2 separate regions of the Homo sapiens genome follow, and region 1 is linked to region 2. The links come from fine-mapping of genetic effects on gene expression. A gene starts in region 2. The other region holds a variant in brackets. All regions are shown on one strand. Distances are from middle to middle. Region 1 overlaps LINC02235 (long intergenic non-protein coding RNA 2235). Region 2 holds the start of LINC02235 (long intergenic non-protein coding RNA 2235).

Region 1 (16,635 bases), 47 kb after region 2:
GGAATTGACGAGTGAGGGGGTAGATAGAGGCCAAGAATGTTTTACTAATGGGATTCCCTCTGCATCAAAGAAAACACCAGGAGTGGGCAGTAAACATCTGTCACCATCAAAATTTCTTTTGTTCTCTTAATCCATTGGACTTAACTATTAAATCTTTCTTCAACCAAAGGTATGAACGTACACTGGGAAGGTGAACAGCAGCCTCTCAGGATGACCCTTCCCTCCTCCACTTGTTTGAGGCTGCTCTGAAAATACTAGTTATTGCTCCTTTGAGTACCTGCTGGGACCACTGGTAGGCCCTATGGATTTTACATATAGAGGCTTACAATAGGTCATAGTGATAGGCAATTAAATTAAGTCCTCCAAGGCCACCGTGTACCCAAGCATGAAGTTTACTTATATGCTACTTGATATCCCTAATATGTCCAGCTACATATCCAAAATGGCCTATCAGAAGTTCTTCAAAGACAGCAAATGACAAATCATAAAATACAACCCCTTTCCTACTACCAAATTCCTAGGGAGAAGTTTTAAACTCAATTTCTCTTTCAAGTTGTATCCACCAGGTCATAGTAGGAAGCAGATGGTACACTCAAACTGGGCAGTTGAATTTAACAAAGGGAATGTTTACACTGATGTGGACACAGTGTAGGGAAGCCAACAAGGATGGCCATCGCTCTTGAGTTATCAATAGACAGTGCCTGTTACCACCTTAGGCCTGAAGAAGCATGGGGAGGAAAAGATTTTTGGAATCTAAACAATGTAGTTATATGGAAAGTGATGCCTTAAATAGAGGGATGCCACCAACTCCTGGTAAACCAGCAGAGAAGGAACCAAGGGGAAAAAATACCCTGACCTACTTTCCTTCCTATCCTATTGGTGCTTTCCACTGGCTGAATCCAGCGGGAAGTCAGAGGAAGGGAGACTATGCAGCCTCTGGGGCACAGAGCAGGGTATAGAGTAGATCTGTAGGAGCAAGCAGAAAAAAATCTGGCTCATAAATTCAAATTTAAGAAGAAGAGTGAAGGAAATAAAGTCCAAAAATCAAATTCTCTTGCCCTTGTGTTGTAAGATGCTAAAGAAATCCATTCTTTTTAGCTTAATATTCTACTCAGTCTCAGCTAGAGGGGTTCTAAGTGCTTGGTAAGGTTGGAGTTCTTTTAAAAGCTGCAACCTGGGCTATCTGTTACTGAAATGGGTGTAGCTCCTTCAGGGCCTCAGAAGTTCTATTAGCTTAATGCCCAATGATTGGCGAACTACACTTTAAAGAGTCCAAATGATAAATAGGACACACCAGATGGTCACAGCCCTAGGCCCATACCCAGCACATTTTGAAATGAGCCAATCTTCAGTCCCAGAATGCAAGGCAAATAATGTTCCCAGAATCTAGGACCCGGGATCTAGTCTAATTAAATATTGCTGCCAAATACCACAGCATAGGCTCAATGGTATTTGGGTGAAGGAGCTCAGGCTGAGAAAATATTCTTGGTTTACCTATAATGCTAGCCACTTTATGCTAGTTATCCAGAATTTGTAAACTCAATGGGGAGGAATTAGCAAGAGATTAATTTTAGCATGTACATGGGGGAAACAATTTACCTTGTTGAGCTGTCTCCTTTCCCAGATTGTAGCATTTGAGACACTGCTGCTGTTTTTCAAAGTTTAGAAATTTTTAATGGTGGAAGCTCCAGAGAGCAAAACTTATTTGAGAACACCCTCTCCCATCCCATATTCAGAGCCTTTTATTTTTGTATGTCTCTTTTGTACTGTTCATCTACGTCTGACACTGATAACGCAAACCTAGAACTTTATGAGTACAGTGTAGTATATGTAAAACTCAGATTCAGCATTGCTAAATCCTTTCCACATAATACTAGCAAATGTTGTTCTGCCTCCTAATGTTTAATAGACCTAGGTATAAAAAGACTGTTTCTTACATTTGAATCTTTGCCTCAGCCACACCTGTTTAGGAAGCTGCACCTGAATGGTCGAAGCTGAAACAGCACTATCTTGTATCCTAAATCAGCCCAAGTCTGCTATAGATCAACCATTTGATGAAGCTCTCAACCCCACATTTCTTACGGTGATTATCCAGTTTAGTCTTAGTGTATATGGCACTGTCCTTGAAGAAAGAGCTTCCATAGGCTGTGGTTACCACCAAATGAAAAAATACCATGGAACCTAAAACTTAAAGCCTTTCAAGCCAGGGCAGAGGAACAAAACAAAACAAAAAACAACAAAATTGCACAATTGCAAACTTCTAGATAAGCTTGATATAAATTTCTATACATCACCAACTCAAAACTGAAGCCATATATCACAGCTACTTTGGAAAAATCCTCAGTCACTATTGGTGTTAAGTCTGTTGCCCAAATTCAATTCTTATTTTGGTTACAAAGACCTTGGCCTCATGTACTAGGTATTTCCTCCCTCAAAAACAAATGCTGACCTCTTTACCCACCTTTATAAGAGTAAATCTTATATATTTGCTTGGAGCAGTAAAAAGCATAATCTTTTGAAAGGAGTTCAGCTGCCAAAAGGAGAAGAGAACTAGCTAGGTAATAACACATGCCGTTTCTCCTGTGGCAGCCAGGAAAATGCACTGCTTGCATCTTCTGCAGCAGGGAACATAATTGACTGACTGCCCCAATTTCTGCCTCTCTCGATCCAACTCTGTAATTACTCAGAAGCTTTGCTACTTGTGGGCTACTCCCAGTCAGTGACTGAGCACTGCTTAGGGACTGTGCTAGTCCATTCGTGCAGACTCCTCTAATGGGCCCATTATGAGGTCCCACATTGGCCTTGTCAATCCTCTCTTGGAAATAAGAGGCTGCAACCTGAGACTCTTCTTACCCAGTTCTACCAAATAAGCACCAGACTTGCATCTCTCCTTCATTGTCTCCCTTCCCCTCATCCCTCGTAGGCATTTCCCCCCAAAGAACCTCTTGCATGTTTAATCCCATCTTAGATTTTCTTAGGGTTTAAACTAACACACCTTCCAGACTCATCGTATTGTTGGATAATCTCTCCTAGAACTTAAAAGCAGGTGAATTTTAAATTCTCTAAATTTAAATGTTAAATTTTAAATTCTTTAAATTTAAATGTTAAATTTTAAATTCCATTCTGGGACCTCATAAACATGGGTTCTTAGAGGCGAAAAAAAAAATTAAAAAAATTAAATGAGATAAATAATGAAATGTTACTCATATTTGCTTTTGAACTTATTTAGAAACATATTTTACTGAAGTTTATATGATTGAAAATTCTTTTTGTAAGACAAGTATTAATTGTTGGGTTATGATAAACAAATCGTCACTACTTTGTGTCATACTTAGCTTTTAGCTTTAAACAACAGAAAATTGGTCAATGTATTGACCACATATAGACTATGGTATAGTTAGACATATGCACTTGAATTCCCAACCAGAGTCCCTTATAGGGATTTCACTTTATACACTGATACTTACTCAATCCTAGGTTGGCATTATTGTCTATGGCCTCGCATATGAGTTGGTAATAGGAACAAGATTTTTTTCTGTTGTTTTAAATAGTGTACAGAGGGGATATTTCATTCAAAAATATGGATCATCTAGCCCACTCGTTTTGGTAGATACAATGTTTTATTACTCTAAATATTATATATGCATTATATACATTCTGTTGTATATAGGAAATATTTCATAAGTTTTGTTTTTTACAAAATTTACTAATTTATACACTACCAGGTAGCTATATAAATGTGGTCGTTTCACCATGTGCTCACAAAGATTGATGATTTTTACTCATTAACATTTTTACCTCTTTATTCAGGTTCAGTCACTATCTCTTGATGGGTAGTCAAATAGGCTTTTGAGTACCTCTGAATGATTTTCCATTTCTTGAAGTGTTCAGAAGTTCTTCATCTTAGACACTGGTCTCTAATGTCTTTGAAAATACATGTTTTCTTCAATTGTGAACACACATTTTTCAGATTCAACATCACTTTTATTTGCTTTTGAAGATATGTCTTTCTTTACTGGTCTCCAAGTGATTATCCCTAATGTCTTCCGCCCCCAGCGCCAGGTGAATTTTGTGTATGCTATCTTGTCTATTTACTAAATTAGACTTTCTAATTGTCCACTTGTCTGTTGAAAAAATTCTATCTAGCTATGGTGACAGAAACACACATAAACATAAACATATTTATTTATTTTTTGACACCGAGTCTCACTGTGTCGCCCAGGCTGGAGTTCAGTGGCGCAATCTTGGCTCACTGCAACCTCTGCCCTCCAGGTTCAAAGGATTTTCCTGCCTCAGCCTCCTGAGTAGCTGGAATTACGGGCGTGTGCCACCCCACCTGGGTAATTTTTGTATTTTTAGTAGAAGTGGGGTATCACCATATCAGCCAGGCTGGTCTCGAACTCCAGACCTCAACTAATCCGCCTGCCTCGGCCTCCCAAAGTACTGGGATTACAGGTGTAAGCCACTGTGCCCGGACAACATATTTATTTAAATTGGGAAAATATATGGCTGTTAGAGTGACCAAAATGGGTATCATACAAAGAAATTTGTTCTCATAGGTTTTGGGATGGAATGGGAGAGTCAAGTACCCAAATGAGAATGCACCCATGATGCAGATGCACATTTTCTGAAAGCTAGAAATGACTGCTACATAAAAAAGCTGGTTGCAGTGGCATATGCCTATGGTCCCAGCTACTCGGGAGGCTGAGTCAGGAGGATCACTTGAGCCGAGGAGCTCGAAGCTAGCCTGGGCAACATAGTGATAACTTATCTCTAAAATAAAAGAAAAGAAATGACTCCTATAACCAAAACCCTGGGAAAGTTAAGAGATCCAGGAGTGCCACAGGAAAGAGCTAGTGCCTTGTGCAGCCAGTGGCAAAGGGAAGCCAAGAAGCTGTTTGTCTCTCTCTTCATTTTGTCCCAACTGAAAGACCTTCCACAAATGGGAAAATTTGCATGGCATAAGCAACCTTAGTTCCTATATACCATTTACTGCCTTAATGCTTGTTATTTTTAATTTGAATGTTAATGACAACTTATTTTTAGAATCTTGTAAAAACTTGTAAATTGAATGTGTACTATGTGTTTTAATTATTGTTTTAATTTCTTGGGGAGGAATTCAAGGAAGCCTATTTAGACATGCAGCTACAATTCCTTATTATACATATATACCTATATGTACATACTATTGCTTATAATATTGATTTCCAAGATGATGTCGTTGAAAGGCCTTTAGATAGAAGACTTTGTTTTGGTCACAATATTACTATTAAATAGGAAGTAATTTCTCTTTGTAGGGCCTTTACCTTTTTTATGCTAAACAATAAACAAGTGTGTTAGGTAAAATAATTTCAGTCTCCATTCAGTAATATGAATTTATTAGTTTGTCTTAATTTAAGAAGATGGTGAAGAATAATAGAGAATCTGTAACTTAATTTTGCACAAAATGATTCTCATGTATATGTACTTTCTACTTGGTCACACACTGACATTTATGAGGAAATTGTATTAGGAGGTTTTGAATATTTCTTACCTATATAACTTGAAATAGATTGTGAAGAATCAATAAAATTATTGAAATAGTTTTCATTATAAAGGTGGAAAAATTTTCTGTATGATAACATAACACTTCAAATAAATTTAGGAATACTGCAAACGGATTAATGTAAAATTAAATTATTGAACTTCAGGCATATTATATAATTTCATTTTTATTCATGTGGAAGAATAGAAACATAAACTAGTGGAGATAGTAGAATATTTTAGAGAGAAATAGTCAATTTAAGTGCAAGTAACTAAGAATGATTGTTGATAGGTGTTAAAAAAAAAAGAACCTCCCCCCCATTTTGATAATTATTGTGAAAGGTAATATACTTATTTGAGAAAAAAGTATCTAAATATTTATCTTTTTTTCAGATTGAGAGTATATTATCTTAAATTGTGACTCAAATATTTTGTCATTCTTGATTACAGTTGAGATTTTACTTAATATTACATTACATAAACCATTAGCTGAGAATAATTGAAGCATATTGCAAACCACTAAACATAATAATCTTTTGTAAAGAGTGAAGACTGGAAATGAGTTTTCAATTTTTTATAACAAAATTCCATTAGTGGTGGTTTATATATTTTTAGCCAGAAAGTATTTTTGCCAAATAATATCATATGTAAAACTGCAACTTAGGAATAGATTGAAAAATTGATTAGAATGATGCTGGTGGACCCAGAGTCCAATTTTCTTGGCCACTTAGTTCTCTCCTTTTTTTCCACCCAACAAGGCTCAATACTCTAGAACTCTGGGCATTGGAAAAGCAGTTTGAAAATCAATACCTTATTGCATAAAGTATGTAACTGTAGTATATGCAGTAAATTATTCTATAAATGGAGACATTAGCCTATAATATAACCAATATTTGAGAGACATTTTTTTATTTATGCATATAAAATACAAGTGATTGTTTTCTTACTAATAGAAATTAAATCTTTGCATCCTAAAGAGAGTTTAGACTAGACTATGAAAAAAGGGTAGTCTAGTTTAAAATGGTGCTCCTGATTACTTAGAAATAATCAAATGAACTACGGAGCTTCTATGTAGGAAATCAATGTGCATTCTCAAGAAAATGAAATAAATTATTGCTCCCAAGTTTGCTCAAACTGCTGCATTAAAATCCTGGCTAGAATCAGATGGTTGTGAAAAACACAGCACTGTTGATTTATCAAAATACTAGAAAACATATTTTATTTTGGGATCTTTTTATTGAGTGTCTCACTTTGGAAAGATTTAAAATAACGAGTTTCAGATCTGGATGTTTCTCCGGATGTTAATGAACTGCTCAGATGTACTCAGGCGAGGTTAGCTGGAAATCTCTCCAACATGTTTGATGGCATTTATATAATGTGATTGTCTTCATAGAATGTTTACCACTGAGCATCTTCCCGAGAAGCAGTCAATAAACACTTGACTGATAGCTCACAGAGCTACTAAGCTAACAGATGTCTTTGTTGACAGTCTCAGTATAGCCAAAGCAGATTTACTCATCATTGTTTACAAGTTTTCCCATCTTCCCCAGTTTTCTGTCAGGCTTAGTCATAAACACTGTACCATCTTCTCTGAGCATGTAATCTCAGATTCACCGTACTTTTTCACTTCTCATGACTCTAGTAGTCAACAAATCAAGAAACGTTATCATTTCCCTAATTCCACAAAGCCATAACTGTATTTTTCAACCAAAACCTGCCCTTGAGTCAGAATTGGATTATTCCACAGGCAAACCAGGCAAAGGTCTGTTGGGCCTCAGATTAACTCGTATTTTTCCAGAAAGGGAGAGGCAGCATCACCAGCTAGCTGTAACAATATTCTTGTCCTTGATAATGACATCACACTGGATGACACCAATCCTTGAAAACCTTCAAGGTAGCTTGATGTTATGGAAATTACCCATGCCCCTGAGCAGATTTTATTAGACACTTTTATTTGTGAGCCAATGGTATAATCACATTGTGCTAGGAACAACTAGAGAGAAACCAAGCGTGCACAGTCTATCACGTTAAGAACCTAAATATGGCTTGAGTGGCATTATTGTATTGTGGTGAAGAACACAGACTCTAGAGCCAGATCGCCTGAGTTCAAATCCCTCTTCTGTTGCTTACTACCTGTGCAACCTTGAGCAAGTTAAATCTTTTATCTCTTGATTTCTATGTCTTAAATGAGGATTATGAAAATAACTATCTCATGCAATTGTGATAATTAAATAAGTTAATATAGGTTACTTATAGGTCCCAAGTGCCTGACACGTAGTAAGCCCTATGTATATTTGCTACTGTACTTGACAGGGCACTTCTTTGTCTCTTTATTTCTCATTTGCTCATGCCACATATATTTTGAATTCATCAAGCTGAACTCCAAAAGCGGTAATGAGGAAAACACCTCTCTAGTATTTGTTTGTACTAACTGATGTACGTATGTGTGTGTATATGTATGTGTGTATGTATGTATGTGTGTGTTGCATTTGAAAGAGAAGGAGCTGAGAATAAAGCCAGCAGTTTGATATTTATCTGCAGGTCTATGGACTGGGTTTGAATGGCCATGTTTAAAAGACTGACAGAATGATAACTGTAAGAGAGATCTGGGAAGTGCCAAGCAGGCTGTGATGGTCAGAAGCTGAAGAAACTCTCCAGTGAGACTTTGTGAATAGCAAACAGTTACTCTGGAGTGTTGCAGAATAGCTTCTGAAGGCTGACTCTATTGATTAACCATCACTTACTGCACTTCACTTTAGTCTACTTGCCTAGTTCAAATAAATCGATACCCCCTTTAGTATTGGGCACTTGAACAAACAAACAAAAACATCCTATTTAGTGGGCACAAGCCCATAATAGGAAAAGCTAAGACTGAATAGTTTTTCAGGTCTCATTCTTCCACTTTTGGCTTCAGAGCAGAAAACCCTCGGTGATAGAATATTCTATCCCTGGAGCTTGGGCAGCTCCAGTGTGGTTCCTCCTAGGCCATGAGTAGCCAGGATCGATATCTTTTCAGTCCTGGGACAGTTGGAGAAAGGTCCATTCTGATGAATGCGTAATACCAATTGTAGCAGCCCAGTTGGTGAATAGAGCTCAGACCTTTCGAAGCATTTCCCCTACTGCCTTTCCAAAGACTTCTCTCTGTCAGGATCTTGCAGGTTCCTGTCTCTTAAGGCTGTCACAATGAGCTAATGACCCATTGGCTTATTTCCCCCTAGAATCGAGAAAGAGAAGGGAGGCCTCAATTACTGTGACGAGCCAGAAGACAGTAGCTTCTTGTTATTTGTGGTAATTGTGTTCTTATGTTTGAATTTTAATCAATCCAGTACATGTACGTAAGGAAAAATCAGTTTAAAAACTTATAGCAAACACAGTAGCTTTCTACCCCGCTCTTCTCCACCCCAGATCCTGCCCTTTAGAGGAGAGCTGCACGCGCTTCTTTGCATCTGTATAATTTCCACTATTTCTAAAGAATCTGCTTCTGCTGCTAGCTTTTGTTTTATTAATTTTAGGTATCTATTGGCTTCTGTTATTGTAGTTAAGGATGGATCTTATTTACATGACTTCCCCTTCCTACTGCCTCTCAATGTAGTTTTATCACTATTTTTGGTTTTCACTATCAATCTTTAGAATATTTTGACCACTGAACTACATGTAGATTGTACCATGATTATGTTTCATATCTTTCATGATAATTTTGACAGCTCTTGTTTGTTGTTCTCTACTCTCCTGTTTTCTTCATTCTTATGGAATTATATTTTTTCATTTATTTTCAATCTTGAGTAACTTGTTTTTGCTCCTTGAAAACTTGTAAAATTTTCTCTTTACCTTCTGTGTTAGTGTTCTGTGGTTGCTGTAATAAATTATCATAAATAGGGTGG[C/T]TTAAACAACAAAAAAATTATTCTCTTACAGTTCTGGAGAATAGAAGGCTGAAATCTGTATCACCTGGCCGAAATCAAGGTGTTGGCAGAGGTGCACTCCCTCTAGAGGCTCTAGGGGGGATTCCACCCTTTGCCTCTGCCAGCTCCTGAATGTGCTACAGACATTTGCTTTAAATGTTTAGGGGATTATTAAAATAGACGAGCAATGAATAGCCTTCAGAATAAATCTTGTTTTCCAGGCTCTGATGGCTGCTGGCATTCCTTGAGACTGGACATCACTCCAATCTCTGTCTCTGTGGTCACTTGGCCTTTTCTTCTGTGTGTAGTATCTATCTGATGCTCTCTTATACACACATATGATGGCATTTAGGCCCTATCCAGATAATTCAGGATAAATCTCACATCAAGATTCTCAATTTAATCACACCTGCAGACTTTACTATTCAAAGTAACATTCACAGGTGCCAGGGATTAGGAATTGCCATCTTTGTGGGTCATTATTCAGCATACTACACCTTCAAATTCCATTATTGCCATGTATGCCCTACTGTATGTCTTGTAAAATCTTCCTGAACCTCAGTAAGAACCTTAAACGTACAGATTCAAAACATTTTTTAAAATCACAAATTTTTTTCATTATAATGTCTTTAATTTTTTCTTTGTTACTTTTTCCCTGAAATTTCATGATTTATTTATTAGATATTTTAGATCTATTTTTTCCTTTTTCCTTATGATTAACTTCTCCATAAATTTTTTTTTCTTTTGAGATATGTTTTCCTCTGGATCTTTAAAGACACTAATTGGGTTATCAATAGTGGCCATTCTTTCAATTAAACTATTTAATTTTTTAAAGAAAAATATCTAGTAATTTTTGACTCACAGAAATCTCACGGTATTTAAATCATAGGTTCTTTATTTTTGGATGCTGTCTGATCTAGTAGTTTTGATGTTCTATTTGTTCTTTCTCTTCTTCTTTTTATGCTTATTGTTACTTTTTTTTTTTTTTTTTTTCTCTGTCTTGGGTGCATTGTGCTTTTATTCTTTTTCTTTACCATTGGGGCTTAGGTTTAGCTGCTGGGATATCTTAAAGTAGCCTCTGCTGCTATGGTCTTATTTCTTCACATCTAGTAATTTTTGATAGTGTACTAGATATTGTAAAACATATTTATAAAAGTATGATTTTTTTTCTTTAAAAGTTTGGATTTTGAGCTGGCAGGCAGGAAATTTACTGGTGGATCATCATAATTCTTTGAAACCTGTTTTTAAGCTATATCAACTTTATTAAAGGTCTAGGGTAGATCTTCTTCTATAGCTAGAGTAGTTCTGCTTCTAAGCTATGGCCTTTGTAAGAAGTCTCAACTGAGCGCCTGGGGTTTTTAGCAAGATCTTTCCATGGTTGCTGGTCAGAATTTCTATTTCTTCAACCAATTTGAAACCACAAAGATATACATTTTATTTCACAAATACCTAGCAGTTGTTCTCTACCATCTTCCTGAGTCTCACCATGTGCATGCACAGCTTTAGAATTTAGCCAATGTAGTAAGAGGACCCCTATATAGATTTGTGAGGTCTTTGTCTTCATGGCTTCCTTGTCTGCAGTAGCCAGTTCCACATACTTCAGCCTTCTTAGCAACTTTAAACATTGATTTTTGCTTCCTCAGCTCAATGATACTGCTGTGCTCTGCTTAACTTGCCTCCCTGCATTATAGTCTGGAAAGATTTCCCCTGTAGAAATTCAGGCCAATTATGGGGCTTACTTTGTGTGTTTCCTCTTTCTCAGGGATCAGAGTTTTGTGCTGCCTTTTGACTAATGTCTGACAATATCGCTATGTGTGTTGTCCAATTTTACAGTCATTTACCATGGGAGGAATAGTCTGGTACCAGTTACTTTATTATGTTTATAATCAGACATTTTCCTGCTGCCAATTTAATATATTCACTTGAATATTTTAAAGGCATTTCAAATGCAACATGACCAAGAAAAAAAAATTAATGGTCCTCTTTTCCCAAATCTGGTTCAGTTATACAAGTTGGAAACTTAGAAATCATCTTTGATGTCTCCTTCTTTCTCATCTTCCACATCTGGTGAATCATCAAGATACCTAAGTATCTCTTGAATTTATACTTCTCTCCATCTCCACCACTCACCTGTTAGATGAAGCATCATGTTGAAATAGCTTCCCAACTGATTTATTTAATAGTTAACTCTTGACTCCTCTATCAGTTTATCTTCTCATTGCAGCCTGGCTGATCTTGTTTAAAAGTCAACTGGGTCATGTTTTTCTCTTCTCCACATCTTGGTTTGAATCCTTCAATGGCTTTCCATTGGTCATAGAATGTGGGCAAAACTCCTTAACATGGCCTTGTAATCTCTGCATGATCTGTTCTCTACCTACTAGACAGCTTTGTTAAAGATCTCATTTACCTTACTCTCTTCACTTCATTCCATGAGATTTTGCTCATGCTATTTTCTTAGGAATGGTTTTCTTTCATCTATTTAGTTAATTTTCTCTCACCTTTTAGGACTCAGTCTTATTATTTATCTCTTCTTTACAGAAAATTCCTGACTAGGTCAAATTCCTAAATTAATATGTTCAAATTCATATATATCAATTGAAATTTCACATTTGTGTGACTTCTTTAATGTCTTATCCTCTGCTACAGTAAATACTATAAAAGCAGTTTCATTAATATTTTTTGCCCATACTTAGCAGAATGTCTGAAATAGAAGTGATAAAGTAATATTGCTTGAATAAGAAAATTTGCTCAAAATCAAGAAGATGGTAACTGTAGGTACATCACTGCCCATACCTGTTATCATATGAGAATTGCAGGCATAGTTTCCATTAGAAACATAAAGTTCATATTTATATCAGTGTCAGAAATGTCACAATACCAATTTCTATATTGGATGGCAGCTCTCTTTTAAGTAAATTCTGCTTATTATCAAATCATAAATAAATATTTAGAAGTTTCTTGCTGTTTTCAGAATTTAAATACTAAAATCCCAAAAGCAGGTATAAAAAGTATTTTTAACATCATACAAGTGTTAAATTTACACATAAAATGAACAACATCTAAAGTTACATTTAGTAGCAGTATACCATGATTCTATCATATTTATGTTAACTTATGCTGGTTTGCTTGTATGCCAGACACTATTTGAAGTGCTTTGAAAGTATTAACTCATTTAACTATTAAAGCAACATTATGAAGAAGGTATTATAATTATTATTTCCACTCTATAGATGAAGAAACAGAGGTACAGATACATTAAATAATTTTCTAATGTTCAACAACAGAATCAAGATAAAAACCCAGAATTGTTGGCTTTAGAGAGTTTAATAATTTTTAGATTCTTTTTGCGTGGCTTCTGGATTCTAGCCAGTTTCTTGAAAGTCACAGTAACTGTACAATGAAAGTTTGGCCCATTTATACGACAGAGTTTTATTATACCTAGTCTTTGAAAATCCATATGTCCTACATCTCAGTAAAGGAGGTGAGACAAGTGAATATGTATGTGGAGATAGAGATAGGTACATTGTTAACATTCTATGTGGTATATTTTTCTTACCTCATGCTTCCCTTGAAGAAAAATAGTGTTAACTCTGAAATATTTGTGGGGGTTGTAAAATGGGCAGAATTTAAGGATTTCAATGTGATCTATTAGATTGAATGAGAGCAGCCAGAAAATTAGTTAAATGTACTCAATTTGGTAAATGATCTGTCATAGGACTCAATTTAAAAAATCCTTTTAAGCAGAATTTAGGTTTTGTGGATTTGGCAAGGTATCAAATCTTATGAAATATTTGGAGGTCTTAATTCAGCAGTGGACTCAAAATAGATTCTCCTTAATGAGAGTTAAAAGATAAACGGCAAAAATCGAAATACAGCTTGCTGTAATGTTTCATGAAATTGCCAGATTGCCAGATGATACTTAATTGGAAGCTCAGAAAATAATGATGAGCAACCTAATCAGAAAAAATGTTTTTGGTCTAAATTCCTGAAGAAGGAGATTGCACACACAGTAGACCATAAACTGGAGACATCTAAAAATGAGTTTGTGAAAAACTAAACACTAGTCCCTCTAAACAAAAACAGGCATACAAACAAAAAATAGAAACCAGCTGTTTACATTAACGTATCACTACATTTTTTGAGAAGGAAAGAATTTACTCAGACTGAAAAATGAAAAGTAGCTCTGAATGCTTCTGTGCAATAGTGTGTCTCTGTACTTAGCAGCGACTGCTAAAAGTCTTTCATCGAAGTATATAATACATTTGCTCCATTTAAGAATTACAGCTTGGCATGCAATGTGTCCAATTTTGTCATTACTTGAGGGAGAAGAAAAAGTGTGATCAGTATACTAGAAATCTTGTTCTGGAAATTCAGAGTTGCATTGCTTTTCTTGTAATTAGCATCTTAACCTCTGGGTATATTTTATTAGAGAGACAAGAAAAATTCCAGGGATCCTGTAGAGTTGTACCATGTAATACAAGCGGCAATTTAAATTCAAATTTAAATAATTAAAGTTAAATAAAAGTAGAAATTTAATTCCTCAGTTGCATTGGCCACATTTTAATTGCTCAGTAGCTTCTTGTAGCTAGTTGCTACAGTATTGAACAGAACAAATATATAGAATATTGGACAGCACAGATACTAAACATTCCCCCATCATCTTAGAAAGTTACATTGCACAGTGCTACTTCTGAGTACTTATATTTGGTCATCTCAGTTCTGTTTTCTTATTTTTATTTTTATTTATTTTTTAGAGATAGGGTCTTGCAATATTGTCCAGGCTGGTCTTAAACACCTGGTCTCAAGTGATCCTTCCACTTCAGCCTCCCAAATTTCTGGTATTACATGTGTGAACCATCATGCCTGACCTCAGTTCTGTTTTCAGTTTCCATGGTTTTATTCTATCTGTCTGAAGCTCATATTAATTTTCCATGTGGATATATTGTAGTGAAAATGTCTTTCCATTATTCATTTCTTAAAACTCAATCTCCTAATCTGTGGCTATTAAGACTTAATTTACAGGGTTTTTAATGAGCATTAAAGTGAAATAATATAAGAAAACTGACACATAGTAAATTTGCAATGAATACTAATTTGCATTCTTTATAATGTAATCTTTTTTTCAATGATAATAGATCATACTCCTTGGGGAATCTGGTGAAGGTTATGAGGACTAAGAGCTGATTTTTTTTTGTTTTACCCAAATTCCTATCTAAGGGGTCTGGGGAGTCATGCCCTACAAAACATAAATTCTTATCAGATGGGTTATATTTAACTCTATATATCATGACTTACTTTCCAACCTGACTTTGGCATAATATAATGAGACAAGAAAGAAAATTAAAAATTTTTATCCCAAAACATATTTCTTTGCGGTATCTCGAAATGGCCCTGCAAAGCTGTCCTTTGTGGGGGAAAATTTGCATCTGTAAAGAATCTGTTAACATAGCTAGATCTTTTTCTTCCAGGCCCTCCCAATCCTAAAGAGATTAACTAAAAGTCTAGCACCTCTTAAAGATCTGAATAGGAAACACCTGTCATCTATTGTCTCTAAGGGCAGCCATTGTAAGACTTCAAAAGAACCTTGATCGCCACAATCTTTCATCTTAACCTCAACATTTCCTTTCTACTGATCCCAGGTCTTTAGACTAACTCAGCTAATTATCAACTAGAAAATGTTTAAATTTACCTATAGCCTGGAAGCCTCCCCCTACCCCCAACCCCGTTTTCAGTTGACCCACCTTTCTGGACCAAAACAATGTATTTCTTAAATGTATTTTGATTGATGTCTCATGCCTCTCTAAAATGTGTGAAATCAAGCTGTGCCCGACCACCTTGGGCTTATGTTCTCAGGACCTCGTGAGGGCTGTGTCATGGGCCATGGTCACTCATATTTGGCTCAGAATAAATCTTTTCAAATATTTTACACAGTTTGACTCTTTTTGTTAACAGTTATAGGAGAAATAGATATACTCTGAGTTTAGAGAAAGCCTGTTTCGACTTCTGCATGACTTTCATCTAATATTCTTATCTTCTTATTTTTTATGCTCCTTCTATGTTATCCTGTCATAGTACTTCTTAGGGAGTGTACTGTTCCTGGTCTCTATGCCATTTTCAGGCATGGCTTCTGTATTTATCCATTTACCATCAAAATTGGGCAAGGGAATAACAAGTGACATTAAGTGGCTCACTTATGTGTCAAATATGTTTCTCCCTGCCTCTGTTGTATATTGGTAGCTTTATCTCCTCCTGATGATCAAATTCAATTACCTCTACCAACCAGGTGATTTTTCTTTTCTGCTGCTCCCTTGTTATGTGAAGTCCAAAGTGCTAGACTGACAGCCATAGATTAAGGTTCACGGGGACTCTTGCTGTTTCCCCTAGTAGAAGCATTCTTTCTTTGGTAGTCAGGACTTCTCAACCTGCAGAGCCCAGCACTGTGAGGCAGGAAACAAAAATTCCCCATGTGGTGTTTCACAGGGAGTGATATAAGTGAGATGATCTTTTCTTCCATCTCTTGGTTTTCAGACCCATGCATTTATGTCTTGAGGACACAGCCATTATCTATGTATATGTGTGTATGTGTATATGTGTGTGTATGTGCATTTGCATTCTGGAGGACAGTGGCCCATTCTTATAGGGTATTGTCTCTGAGCTGGTGCCTTAGCCATACCTTCTTGAGTAGGCTTTTCTTTGCTTTAGCAGGCTGGCAGATTCTGGGTAATTCTGTATGTGAGAGGACCATGGAATCTCAAGCTCATGTGTCTACTGCTGTGCTTCCATTGGTCTGATGTGACTTTGTGTGGGATTCCATGTTGACAGAGCAAATACTCTTTAAACATTTGGATAATAATATAGTCTAAGGCTCTATAGAAAGGAATGGCAGCTGGGCACAGTGGCTTATGCCTGTAATCCCAGCACTTTGGGAGGCCAAGGCAGGCGGATCACCTGAAGCCAGGAGTTTAAGACCAGTCTGACCAACATGCCAAAACCCTGTCTCTACTAAAAATGCCAAAATTAGCCAGGCATGGTGGCATGTGCCTGTAATCTCAGCTACTCAGGAGGCTGAGGTAAGAGAATTGCTTGAACCCAGGAGGTGGAGGTTGCAGTGAGCCAAGATTGTGCCACTACACTCCAGCCTGGGCAACAGAGTGAGACTCTGTCTCAAAAAAAAAAAAAAAAAAAAAAAGAAAAGAAAAGAAAAAGAAATTGC
Region 2 (16,635 bases):
ATACATACTGACTTTATTTTCTTGTCTTAGAAAATGAACTCCCCCTTCTAAATAAGCTACTCTCCACTGTGGCCACTGAATACCCCTGTTTCTCTAGCAAGATAAAATACGACTTTTGTGTTCTATCTCTTCTAGAAAGTGCTTTCTACTTGTTTAAGTAGTGCTTTCAATGAAAACTTTATGAACAGTACTGATCATTCCCTTCTCTATATTCCAATAACTGTTGTTGTTTCTACTCTTTATTTGAAGTTTCATATGTATTTCCTTGTACTGTTTTTATTTTAATGTAGTTGTTTTTGAATTATAAAATATATACAAAAAGTGTGCAATTCATAAGCGTACAACTTGACAAATTTCACAAAATGAACACACCTAAAGTACTATGAGTGTATTAGTCCATTTCATGCTGCTGAGAGACATACCTGAGACTGGGCAATTTACAAAAGAAAGAGGTTTACTGGACTTACAGTTCCATGTGGCTAGGGAGGCCTTATAATCATGGTGGAAAGTGAAGGCACATCTCACATGGCAGCAGACAAAAGAAGAGAGCTTGTGCAAGGACATTCCCATTTTTAAAACCATCAGATATCATGAGACTTACCCACTATCACAAGAACAGCATGGGAAAGACCTGCCCCCATTGTTCAATTACCTCCCACTGGGTCCCTCCCACAACATGTGGGAATTCAAGATGAGATTTGGGTGGGGACACATTCAAACCATATCATTCCACCCCTGGCCCCTCCCAAATCTCATGTCCTCACATTTCAAAACTAATAGTGCCTTCCAGACAGTCCCCCAAAGACTTAACTCATTTCAGCATTAACTCAAAAGTCCACAGTCCAAATTCTTATACGAGACAAGAAGTCCCTTCCGTCTATGAGCCTATAAAATCAAAAGCAAGCTAGTTACTTACTAGATACAATGAGGGTACAGGCATTGGGTAAATACAAGCATCCCAAATGGGAGAAATTGGCTAAAACAAAGGGGCTACAGGCCCAATGCAAGTCTGAAATCCAGCAGGGTAGTCAAATCTTAAAGCTCCAAAATACTTTCCTTTGACTCCATGTCTAGTTCATGTCTGGGTCCTGCTCATGCAAGAGGTGGGCTCCCATGGCCTTGGGCAGCTCCACCCCTGGGGCTTTGCAGGATATAGCCCTCCTCCTTCCTGGCTGCTTTTATGAGCCGTGGCTTTTCCAGGTGCATGGTGCAAGCTGTTGGTGGATCTACCTTTCTAGGACCTGGAGGATGATGGCCCTCCTCTCACAGCTCCACTAGACAGTGCCCCAGTAGGGACTCTGTATGGGGCTCTGACCCCACATTTCCCTTCCACACAGCCCTAGCAGCAGTTTTCCATGAGGGCCCTGCCCCTACAGCAAACTTCTGCCTGGGCATCCAGGCATTTCCATACATCATCTGAAATCTAGGCAGAGGTTCCCAAACCTCAATTCTTGACTTCTGTGCACTCACAGGCTCAACACTATGTGGCAGCTGCCAAGGCTTGGGGATTACACCCTCTGAAGTCACGGCCTGAGCTCTATGTTGGCCCCTGTCAGCCATGGCTGGAGCGGCTGGGACGCAGGGCACCAAGCCTCTAGGCTGCACATAGCACAGGGACCCTGGGCCCAGTCCACAAAACCACGTTTTCCTCCTACGCCTTTGGGCTTGTGATGGGAGGGGCTGCCATGAAGACCTCTCATATGCCCTGGAGACATCTTCCCCATTGTCTTGGGGATTAACATTGGGTTCCTTATTACTTATGCAAATTTCTACAGCCAGCTTGAATTTCTCCTCAGAAAATGGGATTTTACTTTCTATTGCACTGTCAGGCTGCAAATTTTCCAAACTTTTATGCTGTGCTTCCGTTATAAAACTGAATGCCTTTAGTAGCACCCAAGTCACCTCTTGAATGCTTTGCTGCTTAGAAATTTCTTCCGCCAGATACCCTAAATCATCCCTCTCAAGTTCAAAGTTCCAGAAATCTCTAGGGCAGGGGCAAAATGCCGCCAATCTCTTTGCTAAACCTAACAAGAATTACCTTTTCTCCATTTCCCAACAAGTTCCTCATCTCCAACTAAGACTACCTCAGCCTGGACTGTAGAAAGAGGTTTATTTGACTTACAGTTCCACATGGCTGGGAGGCCTCACAATCATGATGGAAGGTGAAAGGCAAGTCTCACATGCTGGCAGACAAGAGAGGACAGCTTGTGCAGGGAGACTCCCGCTTTTAAAACCATCAGATCTTGTGAGACTTATTCACTATCACAAGAACAGTATGGGAAAGACCTGCCCCAATGATTGCCCCTTGTCCCTCATCTGAGACAAGGCAAGTCCCTTTTGCCTATCAGCTTGTAAAATCAAAAGCAAGTTAGCTATACTTCCTAATTACCTCCCACCAGGTCTCTCCCACAACACATGGGAATTAAATGAGATTTAGGTGGGGACACAGCCAAACCATATCAGTGAGCAAGAAATGAAACATTACCAATCAAAGAGGTCCATAGCATGCTTCCTTCCCAATTCTACTCACTACACATCCTAGTCAATTTTTGTCTTTAAACAACCTTTTTAAAGACTAGACACCTTATATATTATCAGATCAAGAGTGAGTCCTAATACTTTTTTCAGTTATGAGAGCAATTCAAAAGAATATATCTAGAAAAAATTATTTTACAAACCTAAGATTCTCAAGTTTGTATCTCCAGCTTATACCTCTCCCTTAAACTCAGCTTATATGTATACACACACATTACATATGTATGTGTACACATTAACACATGTAACATCTCCATTTCAATGTTGAACAGACATATCAAATCTAGCATGTCTAAAAACAAATTTTGATCATCCCTCAAAACCTGTCATTTAATTAAATGGCAGCCATATCTTCCCATTGTTTAGGCCAAAACTTTTGAAGTCACCTTTGACCTCTCTTTCTCCCACACTCCACTTCCAAATCATTAGGAAATATTGCCGGTTCTACTTTTAAAACAAATCCAGAACCTGATCACTTCTCAGGACTTCCTCCACCACCCCAGTCCACACTACCATCATGTTTCCCTTGGATTACTAAAAGAACCTACTAACTGCTTCCTGCTTTGACTGTCCCCCATCTCGACCAAACCAGTCTCAATTCAGTAGCCAGAATGAACTTTTTAAAACATTGTCAGATCACATGACTCTTCTTTTAAAAACCTTTTAAAAGATTCTCATCTCATGCAGAGTAAAATCCAAAGTCTTCACAGTGCCTCCTTCCCTATGTGATCTGTGTGCCACACTTCCCTGCCTGTCATCTCATTCCCTACACCTCCCACAGCTTACTCTGCTGTCAGCCACAAGGATCTTTGTAGTTGTCCCATCTGTGTTGAAAACACATTCTCATGGCTCATTCCCTGTTAGCACTAACATCTTTTTGTGAGGCCATGACTGATAGTGCTATTTAAATCCCAACCCCAGATTTGGGGAAACTCCCTGTCTTCCTTCTCTGTTTTATTTCTCTCTATAGTGCTTATCACCATGTGACATATCAGGCGTCTTATTATTTACTTACTTATCATGCTTTCATTCAAATTGCTGTACCACTATTACCCAGAACAGTGCCTGAGGCATAATAGGTAATTAAAAAAATGTTGAGTTAATAAATAAATGAATATGACTAATTTCATATCTGTCATTTACTTCCTCCTCTCCAGTCTCTTGAAATGCTTTACATAACACCACCTTGTATTTGGCCAAATACTTGCATCTTCACACATATCATCTGTCTTAGTCTGTTAGGTCTGTTATAACAAAATACCATAAATTTGGTAGCTTGTAAACAAAGAAATTTATTTCTCAAAGTTCTAAAGTCTGAGAAGTCCAAGATCAAGACAGTAACAGATTTGGTATCTGGAGAGGGCCTACTTTCTGGTTTATAGATGGTGCCTTATAGCTATGTCCTCAGATGTGTAAAGGACAAAAAGCTCTCTGGGGCCTCTTTTTAAGGGTCCTAATCCTATTTATGGGGGCTCTGCTCCCATGACCTACTGGCTTCCAAAAGCTCCATCTCTTAATACCATCACCTTGAAGGTTAGGTTTCAACATATGAATTTTGAAGGAACGCACATTCAGACCATAGTATCAACTCAATAAATGCCTATTTCTTAATTCAGGAAATTGGCCATCAGTTTATATTTTCTAAAAATTTTCTAAAAAGAGAGAGAGAGACAGAGTTCCCTGAAGATTTCCTATATCACAGTCTTATGATAATTTTAAAGACTGCCTCTTCATAAATTATCTCAACAATTTTTCCTTGGAGGTCCTCCCATCCTGTCATAAATTTACAGCATGAAACATTGAAGTAAACATTAAACTTTACTAAAAGAACAAAGTCTTACCAAAAAAGTAAACCTTTTGAGTTAATAAGAGAGTTGAGCAAGGTTGCTGGATATGTAAACATAAAAGGACAAATTATATAAAATAGCAGTAAATAGAAAACAAAAATAGATGTCTCTCACAAGAACATCAAACAACATCCATATCCTGAAATAAATCTAACCAACAGATGTAAGAACCCTGCACCAAAAACAACAAAACATTACTAGAAAAAAATGACTTAAGTAAATGGATTAGGTTCATAGATTTGAAAACTCAGTAAAGATGTCAGTTCTCCCCAGATTAATCTATAGATCTAACAAAATCTCAATGCAAAGGGTGAAGAATAGCCAAGGCCATCCTGAAGAAAAAAGCTAAAGTACATACACTGCTACATATCAAGACCTATTATAAGACTTTATTAATTAAGACAGTGTGAAATTAGTAAAGGATGAAAAAATAGAACACAGAAGCAGACCCATGCATTTATGGTCACATGATTTATGACACAGACAACACTGAAAATGAAGAGGAGAGAGAGTGGTCTTTCAAATAAAAGCCTGATTAATTGGTCCCATCTGGAAAAAAAAAAAAAAAAAGACTTGACCCTCACCTCACACCATGGACAAAAATCAATTCTGGTGGTTTACGAATCTAAATGTGAAAGGTCCAACAATAAAGATTTTAGAAGAAAACATAGGACAGTATCTTTGTAGCCTTGGAGTAGGCAAAGATTTCAAAAAGTGCTAGCCATTAAAAAAAGTAATAAATCAAGCCAAATTAAAATTAAGAACTTTTGTTTATCAAATGTATTATTAAGGAATTGAAAAGGCAAACCACAGAGTGAGAGGATAGTCATAATACATGTATCTGAAAAAAAAATTATATCCAAAGTGCACAGAAAACTACAAATCAAAAGGGAGACTTCCCAAAAGAAAAATGAACAAAAATCATGCACAGATATTTCACAAGAGAATATCCAAACAGCCCAAAAAAATTTTAAATTCAATTAGTCATTAAGAAAATTCAAATTAAAACCACAACCAATGTGATATTACTCTGTACCCATGAGAACAGCTGAAATGATAAAAATGTTAAAATATCACATGTTAGGAAGCTATGGATCAACTGGAACTCTTATATGCTGCTTTTAGGAGTATAAATCAGTACAACCATTCTGAAACACTGTTCACCAATATCTTTTAAAGCTGGGCATGTAATTTGGCAAGGCTAAAGAAAAGAGACCAGATGCAAAAAGAGTATATAATTCCATTTAGATAAAGTACAAAAATAGGCAAAATTAATCTAGGCTATACAAAAGTATTGGGTGAATGGGTCCTGACTGGCAGAGAACCTAGAGCATTTAAGATTCTAGTAACGTTCTTTTCCTTGATTTATGTGCTATTAATAGTTACATAGGTGTGTCTGGTTTGTGAAAATTTATTAAGGTAAAGCAAAAGTTTACTACAACATGATAGAATTCAGTGGTGTAAAAACCATTAGAATTTCATATTCAAGAAATTATAAGTACAAGTTTACATTAATTTAACACTGGTTTGAACACAGAGATTAGCCAATCTTTCACTTTGTAGTGTTATACAGCAGAAGTCAATACTTACAGTAAATTTAGCTCTTTCTTCCATCACTTCATAACCCAGTATAGTAGGTGTAGATGGTCTATCTTCCCAATTCACTGTTTCCGGATTTTGTTCTTCAGTGTCTCTTGGTCTAGTAGAATACTCAATGGAAGAAGCTGTACCTGTAAATTTAGTCCTAATGAGGGGACTGCTACAGACAGATGAAGTATTATCCATTTGATCAGGAACACTTGTCTGTTTAAAATTACCCATATTTGAGTCTTCTAACTGGCCCTTAGAAGAATTTGAGCTTGTTGAGACACTGCCAAAAGAAGAACTTCTTTGATTTCTGTTTGTTGTAAAACTGGAAGCAGAGTTTCCTATGGGCATAGGAACTGGGACATAAGGAGTTGCCATCTTCTTTTGGCTTTTCCAACAAGCTTGCACACTGTTGAGTCCACTTAGAGAACAACTAATATGCAATCCATTATTTTCTTCTTAGGAATTCACTATCTAAAAATGAAAAGGACATATTAAAAGGTTAGTCTTTAATGTGCAGCAGGATTCAAAAGAAAAGTATTCTTTTCAATTTTATGACACTATTATTTTATTTGGAATGAAAACATACCTCAAACCCCTTCTCCCAGTTGTCTTTAAGGACTCCTATTTGCAAGATAGAGAGAGCAAAACTACTTCACACTCTTTTTCCTTGACTCCATGTTACATGTTATCCCTTTTTCCTCTACTTTATTCCCTTGTGAAGTATTTCTGTAAAGTTCATTTTAACCTGATTTCATGTATGTAAAAGTTGGTAGGAGAAAGATTGGTAAAGACCCTTCTGAAGCTTTATTCCATGCTTATCATCTTGACAGTACTACATTCAGTACAAGAGAGAAAAAAGAAAAGGAAGAAAACTATTTACATTACCTCTGGATTTAATCAGAAAGGGAGGAAATCTATTCACATTACCTTTCAATTTAATTAGTGAAACTATAAAGATTTACACAGAGTAGTAACAATGAACCAGATGCTTTGATGCTACATAGTATAATTCTATAGAACCCAGGATTAAAAATACACACTTGGTCAAGTTACTCAAATAAAACCCAGTGAACACTGAACTTATATGCAACAAAATTAAATAGTGAAAATTGTAACCGTTCTTCACAGCTTACAGGTCATCACTAATTCTGCTCTACGATAAACTGAGGGTATTTAAATCTTTATAACTTACACTCAAGAATCTGTTATCAAACGGACCAGTATATCTTGTGTCAGAATAGTATCATAACACAAAGAAGAAATGGTTTACTATTACTTTGTTAAATAATAAACTCATAAGAAACTGTAACAACTACAGACCAACAAAATGACAAGACTACACACAACAATAACTGCCCAACTTTTCATACGAAACTCTACTGGTGGGAAAGGTAAGAAATGAGTCACCTGGACTTGGAAAGATGCTGAAATAAGATTTTTAACTCTGGGCTGGGCGCTGTGGCTCACGCCTGTAATCCCAGCACTTTGGGAGGATGAAGCGGGTGGATCGCCTGAGGTCAGGAGTTCGAGGCTAGCCTGGCCAACATGGTGAAACCCCGTCTCTACTAAAAATACAAAAATTAGCCGGGCATGGTGGCGCAGGCCTATAATCCCAGCTACTTGGGAGGCTGAGGCAGGAGAATCGCTTGAACCCGGGAGGCGGAGGTTGCAGTTTGCCGAGATCGTGCCATTGCACTCCAGCCTGGGCTACAAGAGGAAAACTCCGTCTCAAAAAAAAAAAAAAAAAAGATTTTTAACTCAAGTGGCTCTCGGCAACATTTCCCCATTATCAAAGATTCATGAAACTTTAGCTGCTGATTCACCGCTCCTCGGTTCCGCCTGACGGCCTCCCCAAAAACAAGTAAGTCTGAAATCTCAACCTTCTCAAGGTCCGAGGGATCTACCTGGCCTTTGCCACTCTACTACCTGAGGCCGCCTGGCTGGGGGGAGGTCGCATATCAATACATATCAACACAACCACTGACGTCCGAAGATGTGAGCGCTACCCAAGCGTTAAAAAAACAAAACAAGCAAACAAACAAACAAAAAAACGTGCTGTGCTCATTAGGAGCGTCTTCGCCTCTACCCTGATGCGGAGTTGCTCCCAGGACGCTCAGTTCATTCTCACTCTGGAAAACCTCAGGTGAGGTGGCCCGACTCTGAGCAACCCCGTGGGCGGGAGGAAAGAGGCAAATACCAGGCACAGTTCGACCCTCGGAAGGTAAGGCCGGGGTCTGCGCCGGTCACGGGTCTTCCGCACTGCAGGCGGCGAGACCCGCAGCTCCCTGGGATCACAGACTCTCCCGCCTCCGCTGACCGGTGCGCGCCCAGCGCCTCCCAGACGCACAGTGGGGTCGGCGGTGGCCTGAAGGTGGCTGGGCTTCCTGCGGCGCCTCTCCACTCTCCCGCGGAGCCCCTTGCCGCCCGCCAGACATCAAGGTTGCAGGTGTCACCCGTACGAGAACCCGGGACAGCGACCGCCTGTCCTGAGGTAATGACCCAGTCTTTACCTCAGCCCCCTCGGCGATCCCGAACGAGCGCGCTTCCCGGTGACGGTTAAACCGGACTCTCCTTAACCGCAGCTTTTCGCCTCCTCCCTCAGCAGCGAGAAGCCTCACGTGACACCCCCGCCCCAAAAGCAGCTGCTCCCCGCCTCAGCCAGTCTCTGCCCGGGCCCAAGATCCCTGCTGTGTGGAAGGAGGGGCCGAACTGGGCGGGGGGGGGGGGGGGGGGAGAGAGAGAGAGAGAGAGGGAGGGAGGGAGGGAGGGAGGGAGAGAGAGAGAGAGAGAGAGAGAGAGAGAGAGAGAGAGACAGAGACAGAGAGAAAGAGAGAGAGAGAGGGCAAGAGCGAGAGACAGAGAGAGAGAGAGAGAGAGAGAGAGAGAGAGAGAGAGAGAGAGAGAGAGAGAGAGAAAGAGAAAGAAAACGAGCGAGGGAGAGAGCGAGAGCGAGAGAGAGAGAGAGAGAGCGTCACACACACATCTCTGCCGGAAGTGATGTCACGGCATGGGCGCCCGCCCACCGGAGGAGCGACTGGAGTTGATCGGCTGGGCGCTCAGGTAGCGAAGATAAATGTAATCTTGTGGCAGGAAATCGACATTCTCTGCACTATCTTTAGTTTTCCAACTGAACTTCTGAGAAATGGAGGCTACAATACCTAGTTTGCCAAACAGGAGAAGACTACAATTCCCAGAAGGAACTGCGACCAACATTGGTCCGTGCTCATACTTTGCATCATGGGACTTGTAGTCATCACCAGCTTGCGCTGATTCTAACAGGTTATAGATTGTTTTCTAGAATTAGCAGCGCTTTAAGGGATGACAATCGATTAGAAGAGTAGGAAGATAGAACACTGCTTAGTAGCTGATCCGTTCTACATAATTCAGAAGTTCTCATTGGCAGAGAACCCCTGAAATTCTGTAGTGTCTTTTTACTATCCGGTGAGCAATTTGATCCCGATGATGGAATATTAGCCTTGTTAGACATGCGCTTCTGAAGACCTGTGCAGTAGGGAAAGCCGAGTTTTTTGATAGGCAAATCCCAAGATTCAGACCGGTCTACAGGTCTGTTCATCATTAGAATCAGATAATGTGGTTGAAAAATCATTCCACGATTTCTAAGGCTTTTGTATAGTCCCAATGTTACCCATGGAGGGTCTTGACTACAAGTCATCCAGGTTCTTGGTTTTTTTAACAAAGAATTGGACAAAACGCACAAAGAAAGCAAGGAAAGAATGAAGCAAGGAAAGCAGAGATTGAAATGACTGTACACTCCACAGAGTGGGAATGGCCTCCAGCCAGTGGCTCAAGAGCCCTGGTTACAGGATTTTCTGGAGTTTAAATATCCGCTAGAGATTTCCCATTGGTTACTTGGTTTACACCCTCTGTAAATTAAGGAGTAGCCTGCAACCAATCAGAGGCTAAAGTTAAGTTACAAAGTTGTACTCCTATGGAAATGAAGACTAGGCCCAGATACCAAGGGCCTAGAAGGTTGGGCAGGGGGTTGCAAAGGGAATAGCCTCTGGTCTTTTTGTTACTTGGGCTTGGAAAGTTGGAGTTTTCCTTTTGATTTAGTTCTAGGAAGTCAGCGTGAATGGGCCTTAGGTTCCCTGCCTCCGGACCCTATTCTACTGCCCGACTAAGAGTGAGAAAAGGTGATAGTGGTCATTTTGAAATGAAGGTTGGAAAATAGTCTGGTTTGTGACATGATGATGGTTTTGGTTTAAGAGATTCTGCCCTTTTAGTGTGAATGAAATAAAAATAGAATTCTGTAGAAACAATGTTAGGTAGGAGAATAGGGTCTGGAAACAGGGGACCTAAGGCTGATTCATGCTGACTGATATCAGAGGCGACTCCATTTTCAACCCCTCTTTTTTCTGCGTGGCAGTTGCTGCGTGGCAGTTGCAACCCTCCTTTCTTTGGGTGGCAGTTGAAAAATGAAAGAACCTCTGATAGAGCCCCTCCCTCAACCAATCAGACTGGTTGAGGGCCTACTTTTCACTCTGATTGGTCTCCTTCCACAACCAATCAGACTGGGCATAGGCCAATGGGAACCCTCTAGAGGGTATTTAAGCCCCAGAAAATTCTGTAGCTGATGCTCTTGAACCCCTTGACTGAGTCTGTTTTCCTTCTGTGGAGTATACTTTCATTTAAAATAAATCTCTGCTTTCCATGCCTTGTTTGTGTGTTCTGTCCAATTCTTCGTTCAAAACACCAAGAACCTGGACAACTACCCTCAATTGGTAACATATTTTGGTGAGCCAGCCAGAAGGTAAGCCCAAAGTTTGGGATTTGTATTTTTCTTTTTCCTCTTTCTCTCTCTCCCTTTTCCTTTCCAAGCTGGGATCCTTGATGGACAGTGCCTAAGCATGGAGGCAACTGCAGGTTTCTGGCCAGGGCCACTCTCTGGTGAAACTAAAAGGTCCATGTGGAAGCACCTGACTGCCACCACCTGGTTCAGGTGAGGAACCTGAGTTCTTTTCTTTTTCAGTCTTTCAGTGGCCATTTCCTAGTAGCTCCTTGGTAACTGAAGGCAACTGGGGCCACTCTCTGGTGTTAACTGAAGGCCCAGGAGTGAATGGGGATAGCTGCCTTGCCCAGAAAGGGGAAGGACTCTTTTCTGTCTTTTCCAGTTGTAGTCCCTGATGCCTATGAGTGATGCAATTGGCAGTGGCAGCCTGTCCAGGGAAAATTCACACATGTTTCAGGTGGCTTAAGCCTTCTTTCCTTATGTTAAATTCTTCCGTCCCCCTACTTGACTGGCTAAGGATAAGTCACAGAGTTTGGGCATATTGTGGTCTGTGTAACTCATGGAGGGGATTCATGAAAGGGAATCTATGTACAATTTAATCTTGTCCAAATTTAGAAAGTTAAAGAATTGTTTTAAGTGTGATAGGAAAAAAAATCCAAAGGTTTGTCTGAAAGTTAATTCTAGAAGTAGAGACCTTCATCCAGGGACAAGAGGGAAAACTCACAGTGGGTCATCAGTGGTGGTTGGAATCATTCCAAAGTGGTGGTGGCACCAATCTAAGGTCAGAGACGTCTAATGTACTAAGAGGGGTCTCTGGCACTAGAGGATTGACTGCACCCGCTCCCACCAAGGGGCTCAGTTAGGCAAAAGTCTAGCAGTGTGAAAGGAGGAATTAGATGAAGACTGAAGGGGCCTAGAGTCTTCCTCACTGCCCCTGTCCAGGAACATCATAATTACTATTGCAGAGCCCTGGGTAACTAGATGTCATGGGTACCCAAATTCAGTTTTTTTTTTCCAATACAGGGGCGAATTACTCTGTCCTTACTGCTTATGCAGGAAAACTTTCCTCCCAGTCTAAGAGTGTTCCGGGAATGGAAGGAAAGCCACAAACGAGATTCTTTACTTCTCCTTTGTCAGTTTGAGAAACAAATGTTCCAACATAAATCTTTAGTAGTTCCAAGCTGCCTTGTCCACCTGTTGGGAAGCGATATTATCATTAAAATAGGGGCACTACTACAAATTTAAGCATTACCCAGTAAAATTGCTAATAGTCAAAAATACAGACAATATCCCAGACCACATTAATAAACAGGTTAACCTGCTAGCATGTTATGCTGGGAAGCCAGGTGTATTAGTCCATTTTCACACTGCTGATAAGGACAAACTCGAGACTGGATGATTTACAAAAGAAAGAAATTTAATGGACTTGCAGTTCCATATAGCTGGGGAGGCCTCCAATCATGGTGGAAGGCAAGGGAGGAGCAAGTCACATCCTACGTGGATGGTAGTAGGCAAAGAGAGAGGTTGTGCAGGCAAACTCCCTCTTATAAAACTCTCAGATCTTGTGAGGCTTGTTCATGATCATGAGAACAGCAAGGGAAAGACCTTCCCCTATGATTCAATTACCTCCCACTGGGTGTCTCCTATAACATGTGGGAATTCAAGATGAGATTTGGGTGGAGACACAGCCAAACCATATCACCAGGGAAAGCTAAAACAGCAGTGCCAGTCAAAATACCAGTTTAAAGACCCCAGCTATTGCCCCAATTGAAAACAATACCCATTTAAGCTGGAAGCAAGAAAAGGCCTGGCATCCATAGTTGAGATATTGCTTACCCATGAGCTCTTAAAAACCTGCAATTCTCCCTGAAACACCCCCATCTTAACCATTCTAAAGCCCTTGAGGGAATACCTGCTAGTACAGGATTTCAGAATAATTTATCACACTGTTATCCCCGTCCACCCATTGGTGGTGGATCCATATACCCTCCTGGCTTAGGTGCCAGGGGATGCAAAATGTTTCTCCTAGACCTAAAAGATGCTTTCATCTCTATTCCTCTGGCCCCAGAATCCCAATACCTTTTTGCCTTTGAATGGGAAAATCCTAATACCAGAAAAAAAAAAAACAATACATTTGGACAGTACTCCCTCAGGGCTTTCAGGATAGCCCTGATTTCTTAGCCTGATCTGTAGAGAGGGATCTGAGGGATCTGCAATTGGAGAATGGAAGTATATTCCAGTATGTGGTTGAACTTCTTGTGTGTAGCCCAACCCAGGAGGCTTCTGACCAAAATACTATAAAAACGTTGAATTTCCTGGCTGACAGAGGATGTGAAGTGTCCAAAAAGAAGGCTCAGATTACCCTCCAATGGATCCAATATTTAGGGTATGTCTTAACACCGGGAACCCGACAAATATCCCCAGAATGAGTGCAAGCCATATGTGGTTGCCCCACAGCCACCAAGCGCAGCTTTGTTCTTTCTGGGGAATGGCTGGGTTTTGCAGAATATTGGTACCAAATTTGGGGCTTGTAGCAAAGCTCGTATATGAAGCAACAAGGAGGCCTGAAAATGAGCTAACGGAATTGACCCCAGAAATGAGAAGCCTTCACCAAGCTAAAATAGGCCCTTACCAGGCTCCTGCTCTTGGCATCCCAGACATAACTAAGCCCTTCTTGTATGTAGCTGAGAAGGGCGTAGCTGTGGGAGTGCTAGCCTAGAAATTAGGATCAGAACCCAGACCAACTGCCTGCTTTTCAAGGAAGTTGGATGGAGCAGCCTCGAGATGACCAAGTTTCCTGCAGGCAATAGCCACTGCTATGTTTGTGGAGGAAGCCACTAAAATCACCCTGGGCCAACCACTGGAAGTTCTAACCCCCCATCAGGTAAAGCCAGTCTTAGAGATAAAAGGACACATGTGGATGATGGAGGAAAGGTTAAACATATGCCAGGCCATGCTGCTAGACAATCCAGATGTAACCCTTAAAACTTGTAACACCTTGAATCCAGCTTCATTGCTACCCACAGGCCCAATAACTGATGATTCCTGTGAGCAGGTCATTGTACACACATATATTAGCTGGCCTAATTTAAAAGATTAGCCTCTCCCAGATTCTGAAGATAACTGGTTCACAGATGGCAGTAGTTTTGTGTCAAATGGGGAGTGCTGAGTTGGATATGCAATGGTAAATCACAACACCATTATTGAAGCCCAGCCACTGCCCCCTGGCACATCAGCACAAAATACTGAAATCATTGTTCTTACCTGAGCACTAATGTTGAGACAAAGGAAAAAGCTTAACATCTATCCAGATTCTAAATATGCGTTCCTTATGTTTCATGCTCATGCTACAATCTGGAAAGAAAAGGGACTACTAAATAGCAAATACTCCCCAATAAAGCACGGGCCTGAAATTCTTCAGCTGTTGGAAGCAATACACCTGCCAAAGGCTGTAGCTATAATCCATTGTAGGGGGCATCAAAGGGACTTACTTCCTATAGCACAAGGGAACAGAAGGGCTGATAGAGAAGCTAAAGCCGTATCCCTCAGGGTGCAATCCCAACAGATCCTAGCACTGCTTCCTTTCTATGATTCCTGAATGGATCCTGAATACACGCTATAGGAAGAACAGTTAATAAAGGAACAAGGGGGACAAAAATAAGTATCCGGGTGGTATATGGAATCAAACTAAATCTCCCTCAAACAGCCCAGTGGAGATGCCACCCTGGCCATGGTTAACAGGCTCTTCATTGGGCCTAACTTAGATTCAGTGGTTAAGCAGGTCTGTCAATCCTGCTCACTGTGTGCACTTAACAGTCCAGGAAACAAAATGCTTCCTCTAATAGAATCAGTCCAGAGGAGAGGAACTTACCCAGGGGAACACTGTCAATTAGACTTCACCCAAATGCCCGCTTGTAGAGGATACAAGTTTTTGTTAGTCCTGATAGATACCTTTACTGGTTGGGTCGAAGCTTATCCTACCAGAACAGAGAAGGCTATTGAGGTTATAAAGTTTCTCTTACAAATAAATAGTCCCTTAGTTTGGGTAACCTCAGAGTCTCCAAAGAGATAATGGCCCATCCTTTATCTCCCAAATAACTAAAGGGGTCGCTAAGACCTTCAGAATCAAATACTATTTACATTCAGCATGGAGGACTCAATTCTTCGGGAAAGTAGAAAGGGTTAACCAAACTCTAGAACAAGCATTAGGTAAGCTATGTTAGGAAACATCAGAAATTTGGGTCAGCTTACTGACTATAGCCCTCTTAAGGATCTGCAATACCTCTAGAGCAAAAATTAACATAAACCCATATGAAATGTTATACGGAAGGCCATTCTTAACTAATGATCTAATTACTGATCCAGAAACAGCTGGTTTAGTGAAATACCTAGTTAATGGACAATTTCAGCAGGCTTTCACAAAAGTTTGGAACTCAAAGGTTCCCCATACCAGGAGCTAACCAGCATCCCAAAATCAGGCCAAGAGATAAGATACTTGTTAAAACTTGGAAGGAGGGATCGCCTGCTCAACAACTACAGCCCAAATGGAAGGGAACATTTTCAGTGGTGCTGGCCATGCTTTCCATGGTCAAAGTATTAGGATTTAAATAATTGGATACATCTTTCAAGGATCAAGTCTGTGATACCTGAAGCCTCAGACCTGGAACCTGAAGTTTCCTTCAGCCACTACACCTGTGAACCTGTGGAAGACCTGAAGTGCCTGTTTAGAAGACAGCCAAAAGATAAGTAAATGCCTACCAACTTTCCTTGGTGTTTTTGTTGCATAGTTATTGTAGGTTGGATAATAATAGCCATATTTTTATATATTTGGCTGGATAATAATAGCCATATTTTTATATATTTTTGCAGTTTTTCTTTTTTCAAATGTTTGGAATCACTCCCTTTGTAGCAATTAAGCAGAATGTTTTAATTTCTCCCTATAACAAACATTCCTGATAGCATAGGTATCCACCCCCTGAAGTTCCCATTAGATCTTTTAACCAAATTCATTTCCTCTCACCTAGAGACCATTGAGCTTCATATGATCATGCAACAACATTGCCAGCCAGTTCCAAATGAAGATAGCACCCCCAGCGATCAATAAACTACCCTGCCTCCACTGGATAGAGCAGGGAAAAATTTCCATGATCAGCAATAGGTAGGGATTGCACCCCAAGTTAGCATGAAGCAGCTACAGAAGAAAGACCATCAATCCCTCTGCTTCCCATAAAGATTTATGGGAATCACATCTCTCAGGGGGAATATGAGGCAGGAAAATAGGGTCTGGAAGCAGGGAACCTAAGGTTTATTCATGCTGACTGGATATCAGAGGCTACTCTCTTTACGACCTCTCCTTCTCTGTGGCAGTTGAAAAATGAGACCAATATCCCTGATGAACATCAATGCAAAAATCCTCAATAAAATATTGGCAAACAGAATCCAGCAGCACATCAAAAAGCTTATCTACCACAATCAAGTCAGCTTCATCCCTGGGATGCAAGGCTGGTTCAACATATGCAAATCAATAAACATAATCCATCATATAAACAGAAGCAATGACTAAAGCCACATGATTATCTCAATAGATGCAGAAAAAGCATTTGACAAAATTCAACAGCCCTTCATGCTAAACACTCTTAATAAACTAGGTATTGATGGGGATGTATCTCAAAATAATAAGAGCTATTTATGACAAACCCACAGCCAATATCATACTGAATGGGCAAAAACTGAAGCATTCCCTTTGAAAACTGGCACAAGACAAGGATGCTCTCTCTCACCACTCCTATTCAACATAGTGTTGGAAATTCTGGCCAGGGCAATCAGGTAAGAGAGAGAAAGAAAAGGTATTAAATTGGGAAAAGAGGAAGTCAAATTGTCCCTGTTTGCAGATGACATGATTGTATATTTAGA

The links.
Region 1: its variant is fine-mapped to the expression of LINC02235 in thyroid (GTEx, PIP 0.95).

Annotation. Positions count from the first base shown.
Region 1 is chr8:81,881,121-81,897,755 of GRCh38, forward strand. All of the region lies in intron 7 of LINC02235 (long intergenic non-protein coding RNA 2235), which reads left to right. Among named protein-coding and RNA genes, the nearest start is that of LINC02235, 47 kb to the left of the region's middle. RefSeq lists a silencer at 2,670-2,836 and an enhancer at 14,361-15,135. The variant C/T (reference allele first, on the strand shown) is at 9,405.
Region 2 is chr8:81,833,640-81,850,274 of GRCh38, forward strand. It overlaps LINC02235 (long intergenic non-protein coding RNA 2235), which reads left to right and starts at 8,980. Exons shown (of 8, transcript NR_170320.1): 1 at 8,980-9,032; 2 at 10,812-10,932; 3 at 15,352-15,468; 4 at 15,747-15,880. It overlaps SNX16 (sorting nexin 16), which reads right to left and starts at 8,546. Exons shown (of 8, transcript NM_152836.3): 1 at 8,483-8,546; 2 at 5,973-6,443. The coding sequence starts at 6,347. RefSeq lists silencers at 221-421, 8,100-8,149 and enhancers at 7,620-8,552, 8,480-8,529, 8,961-9,230.